Linked DNA regions of Homo sapiens: region 1 is linked to region 2. The links come from fine-mapping of genetic effects on gene expression. A gene starts in region 2. The other region holds a variant in brackets. All regions are shown on one strand. Distances are between the middles of the regions. Region 1 overlaps PHC2 (polyhomeotic homolog 2). Region 2 holds the start of A3GALT2 (alpha 1,3-galactosyltransferase 2).

Region 1 (2,907 bases), 63 kb after region 2:
TTTTTCTCTGGGTTCCTACTCACTGTGTGGTTTTGTATGAGCCCGGGCTCTGAAGGGCTATGATTCCTATTTAAGTCACTTCTCCCCTCCTAACTGCAATGGGCCACTTTGAATGATGTGCTGAATATAACTGGCTTGGATAGTGATCTTATTACAGGTCTCTGCTGCCCACAGGGCCTGAGACCAGCAGCTGGAGAAACGCTGATGGTTCTGCCCTCCCAGGAGCCGCCAAGTCTACGAAACACTAGGCCTTTGTCCCCAGTGTCAGGGAAATCCATTTGCTGTGGATTACAGCTGTGACAGAGGTTCCGGGAAAGCAGAGGGGAAGGATACTGAAAACCTCTCTCCAAATCTAGCCTAAAGCCCTGGGGTAAGGCAGGGTGAGGTTTTTCCTAATGGAATCAGAGCTGGGCAGGAAATGAGAAGTCTCGTCAGCCCCATCGTGGCTGCTGGTATTATCATGAGGCGGCTTGGTATGGAGAGTCTGAAGAGATGGGTGAACATATTCCTTTGCTGTGGCTCTGCTTCTCCTTTCTGGATGCCCCTCCGCCAGAGGCATAAGGCAGTAATAACAGAAGATTCAGACTCCCTAGACTTAGGGGACCTGGGGGAGGCCTCCTTACACCTCTCGGCTGCTGCATGAACATAAGTGTCCTGATTTGTTCCAGTCTGAAGCCACTGACTCACTGGGAGCAGTCCAAATGGATGCAGCTCAAACCATCTCAAAAGGTCCCTCCCTCTCCCCTGTCCTCTGCATGTTGCCACCTTTAGTGTCTCTAGAAACCAAAGTAAGTAAATGAAGGCCAACAAAAATAGAAGTGAAGGATGAGGAATTAAAGCTGGTCATATAGTCCTAGCAATCCAAACAGAATGATTTCATTGTGATGCAAAACACTATAAATTTAAATGAGTAAACTTTCTGAAACCTTACTGTTTTCTTCCTAATTTATAAAAGGCAGGTTATATCAAGTATTTCTATAACAAGGTGGTGCTGGTTGGTTGAAGAATATGAGGAGGAAAAAGAAGGATTTGCTGTCTTTTGGAAGGGATGTACAGTGAAAGCCACACTGTGCAGATGCTGAATGCTTGGGGACGGGATGGATGAGTTTGTCTAGACTTGGGCAGCCCTGGACTCACTGCTGTAAGGCAGAGCAAAATATATTCTGTGTCTTCTATGGGCCCCTAATCAAATATAAGCAGTGTCCTTATAAAAGAACGCCATGTGAAAACAGGCACACACGGGGAGAAGCCAGCCACGTGAAGATGGAGGCAGAGATTGGAGCTATGCTGCCACCAGCCAAAGAACACCTGCAGCCACCAGAAGCTAGGAAGAGGCGAGGAAGGACTCAGGGGGAGCATGGCCCTGCCGACACCTGGATTTCATACTTCCAG[C/T]CTCCAGAACGGTAACATGATACATTTGTGTTGTTTTAAGCCACCCAGTTTGTGGTAATTTGTTAAGGCGGCCTTAGGGAACTATTATGCTGCCTAATACTCAACCTGACCAGCCTAAAAAGGTCAACTGAAACTAATGGTAAAAAAGGGTGCAAAGGCATTAAAAACAGCCTCGTTAATATCATGGCTTTGTATGCTCCAAGGCAAGGCTTCTCAAAAATGTGGTCCCTTGGCAACTCTCCAAAAATGCAAATTTTCAGGCACCACTTCAGACCTACGGAATCAGAAATTCTGGGAGCAGGGCTCAGCAGCCTGTGTTCTCACAGCCTTCTGGGAGATTCTGATGCTGATGAAGCATGAGAGCCACTGCTCTAAGGGGCCCCACTATCCATTTGAATATGAGATTTAAAAGGGGCAGTCATCATTGATGCCATAAGATGGTCATAATGAAGTCCCTGCAAAAAGGGGCTAGAATTTGAGATGGGAAGAGTTACCAAACATAGTTTCTTCCCTGCTGAAACCTCAAAATACCTCCACGTGGAAAGAAAATGTTGGCAGCACTCTGTTTAGGGATCTTCCTGTTTCTCTCCAGCTTCATTGCCTACCACGTGCTCCCACACAGCTGATTCCAGAATTAGTCATATGCTGTCTCACCCCTTGCCCAGACCTTTCCCTCTGCCTGGGCCACTCCCCAGGCCCCTCACTCTCCATCTCCCTGGCCGGAGCGCATTCACCCTTTGCAGTTCAGCTATAACGTCTGTTCCTCTTAGGGACTTCCTTTTTGTACCCCAGCCTAGATTTGGTGCCTTCTTCTGAACTTTAATAGCATAGCAGGACAGCTGATTTTATTTACTAGGTAGTGATTCCATTATTTTTAGATTCCTAATGCCTAACATGGTGCCGAGCCAGCAACAGTAAGATTTTGTTAAATGAGGAATGAATAAAGCTTGAAGCTCTTTGGGAAGCTCTTCACCTCCTGATGAGGAACCCAAGGTTAAAATACCGAAACACACTGTGCAAATACCATGTTATCTGAGAAGGGACCTTTGAAACTATTAGTAGCCATTAGCACCTTTACTCAAATTTGTGGGTCCAGATGGCTACTCTCAACAGGGCCTAGGACATGTAAATTTTGATTTGGGAATGGAGAGGGGAAATGAAAGATGAGTGGTGTTGAAGTGATGGGTGTGGGACTGTGGTCACTGCAAAAAGCAGATGTAGAAGGTCCTGGCCAAAAGGCTGGGACTAGACCCAGTCACACATTGACTAGGTGGGAGCTAGGCAGCAGCATTATGTGGAGATCATAATACCTTACCCCGACCTCCCAGAGCTTCCGGAAAATGAAACAACATAAATAGGAGAAAGCATTTCGGAAACAAAAATCACACAAAGGCAAAGTATCATGAGAGAGAGTTTAGAAAAGGGGAGAGACGTTCTACTCCATAAAAATGAGCAAACATTGCCAGGGCAGGGTTTACATACAGGAATGCAACCCTGGCCATGTTACGTAACCTT
Region 2 (2,907 bases):
GGAGTAGGTTTGGTTCCCTCCCTCTTTGCTACACATATAACAAACTCAGGTGGGGCCTGGTTTTCATTTTCTTCCATAAAGGGAAAATTAAGGTCCAGAAAGTGAAAAGAACTGCCCAGAGTCCTATAGGCCAGTGGTGCACCTGCGCACGTGGCCTGCACTCCAGCAGCAGGAGAGGAGGCAGCACATGGGGCGTTCGTTCTTGCCTGGGGGCTCCCCACGGCTCACTCCCCAATCTCAGCATCCTCTCCTCCCCTGTCAGCTCAGGGTCCTGCCAGTCATTCCCTGCCTCCTGGGGCACCAGGCTTTCCAGTCCCTAGTTCTACCCCCTGGGGATCAACTAATCAGCTTGTTTCTCCTCCAATAAGTATCCGTGTTCTTTAGGTGAAAAGCCCCAACCTACTGCAGGTTTTCAGGGTGCACCTTCAGTAGGCATTTGCCATTCCTGTTTACACTTTACACCAAGGCATTTGCACGGCGGGTAATGGGTGGGGTTGGGCTTTGAGTAGGACTGCCCGATCCCCCAGCCAGAGCTTCCAGCATGGCATTTGGGTTCCATTTGACCTGGGCCTAGCTCAGCCCTGAGGCTCATCTCACAAGGTTCTCGGCCCTGTTATTTCTCCCCGTGGGCTTGGCTTCTTCCCTTCGCACTCTATTCAGCTCCTGTCTGAGCTCCTGGAGGGCTGGCTGCAGCTGGGCTTCTCTGGTTCCTAGAAGCCTGGTCAAACCCCGTACTGGGAGCTGGCAAGGCTGCCTCGGGAGGTGCACTGTGGGAGGTGTGCGAGGTACTGCGTAAGGTACTACAGGAGCAGGAAAAGGCTGGAGGGGCTTTCTCCCCCTCTGTGGCTGTCCCACCCTCTTCACCAGCCTCCTCCCAACCAGGGTAGGGCAAACCGATGCTTATTCTGGGCTCTGGGCCTCAGCCAGGGCACACAGGCAGAGTTGGTCTTGTGAACTCCTGTGGTCAGGCCTGGGAGGGTGCTGAGACCCAGGACTGGGTGGGACCCACCAGCTCCTCCTGCCCCTCCTATGCCCCAGCCTGGGAGCCCGTGGTCTGTGGAGGCCCCTGATCAGTCCACTCCTCCACATTTCTTGTTCAGGTTCTACCTGCAGAAGGTGGTCCCTCAAGCTCCACCCTGTGCCCTGCTCCCCACTCTCGTTGGCTTCAAGAAAGGGTTAAAGATCAGCCATTAGGTCTTAAGGGGGCACAGGTTCCTAGTCCTGGACCATCAGTCCCAGTGGGGATAGAGGGAGCTCTCAGTTACAGTCGGGGAGGGAATGTACCCCCGGGTCTCTGCTTTCCGGCTCGCCAAGGGGGTTTAGAGTTAAGGGAAGCAAGGGGAGTCCAGCTTTTCATTGGCTACAAAATCTTGTGGAATACAACCTCCCCCACCCCGGTGTCCATGCACACGGATTGTCTTTCTTCTCCTGGGGCAATGTCCCCTCTCGGAGCCACCTTTCCCCAGGACTGGAGGCTCAGCTGGTACTCCTGGGCTCACTCTGGTGCCTCCCCTTGGTACTGTTTTAGCCATCAGACTGGATCCCTCTTAGCTCAGCTGTCCCCAAGCTTTCTTCCTCTCCATACCATTGTCCCCCCTCACCTGAGTCCCTCCTTGAGAGCCATATGGGGAAGCAGGTAGGATGGCCTGGAGCAAACTTTCCCAGCTTAGAGCTGGGGAAGAAATGGCCTGCTCCTGGAGATCTGGAACAAGCAGCTCCTCCCCCTTTACCTGAGGAGCTGCACCCACAGGAGCAGTCAGGATGGACTGCCTGCGAGGGACCTGCCGGGGATGCAACCTTTTGGGGGAAGCTGGCCCCAAGGTGGAGTGGGGCTGGCAACCCTTTTGGGGCCAATCACCTGGAAGAGGGTGGGTCTGAGTAGGCCAGTTCTGGTTGGCTGGAGGCTCTGTCATTTTGTACAGACTCCTCTTCCCTCCCCAGGGGAAGTGTCTTTGGTTCTTGGGAACAGCTGGCAATCAAGGTATGGTGTTTGCCACGCAGGAAAAGCCGTTCTGCACAGAGCCTCAGCCAGATCTGAAGGGCACTCGGCACCTGTGACCTTGGACAGTTCACCTAGTGGAGCCCTTTACCTTCTCAGTAGAATGTACACCAGTACATACACCAGTCACCCAGGAGAGAGAACCATGTAAATTCGTGGATGTTGAACCGTTGTGATTTACTCTGGGCAGTGCTTTTTAAAGTTCCAGTTGTGACCTATCTGAAGGCCGTGTAATGAGTTTAGTGGGTCGTGACCAAGATTTTTAAAATACGAACAGGAATACAATGGAAAATATTCTATATTGTACGTAAGGGTAGGTTTTGTTTCATGAAATGTTTGTTTCAGTTGATAGATATTGAAATGTGTATACAAGTTTGGGAAATATTTCTTTAAATTGTGGATCATGATGGAAATAGGTCTGTGAAATTCAGTGTGAAGTGTAAACAACAGGAATAGCAAATGCCTATTGCAGGTGCACCCTGCAAACTTGCAGCAGGTTGGAGCTTTTCATCTAAAGAAGATGGATACTTATTGGTGTGAATCAAATTCACCACATCTTCTTTTAGGAGTAGGTTTGGTTCCCTCCCTCTTTGCTACACACAACAAACTCAGGTGGGGCCTGGTTTTCATTTTCTTCCATAAAGGGAAAATTAAGGTCCAGAAAGTGAAAAGAACTGCCCAGAGTCCTATAGGCCAGTGGTGCACCTGCGCACGTGGCCTGCACTCCAGCAGCAGGAGAGGCGGCAGCACATGGGGCGTTCGTTCTTGCCTGGGGGCTCCCCAGGGCTCACTCCCCAATCTCAGCATCCTCCTCCTCCCGTCAGCTCAGGGTCCTGCCAGCCATTCCCTGCCTCCTGGGACAGGCTTTCCAGTCCCTAGTTCTACCCCCTGGGGATCAACTAATCAGT

Evidence for each region.
Region 1: its variant is fine-mapped to the expression of A3GALT2 in whole blood (INTERVAL, PIP 0.96).

The regions. Positions count from the first base shown.
Region 1 is chr1:33,382,556-33,385,462 of GRCh38, forward strand. The region is part of intron 1 of PHC2 (polyhomeotic homolog 2); the gene reads right to left. Among named protein-coding and RNA genes, the nearest start is that of PHC2-AS1, 34 kb to the left of the region's middle. The variant C/T (reference allele first, on the strand shown) is at 1,393.
Region 2 is chr1:33,319,475-33,322,381 of GRCh38, forward strand. A3GALT2 (alpha 1,3-galactosyltransferase 2) reads right to left here and starts at 1,624. Exons shown (of 5, transcript NM_001080438.1): 1 at 1,602-1,624. The coding sequence starts at 1,624.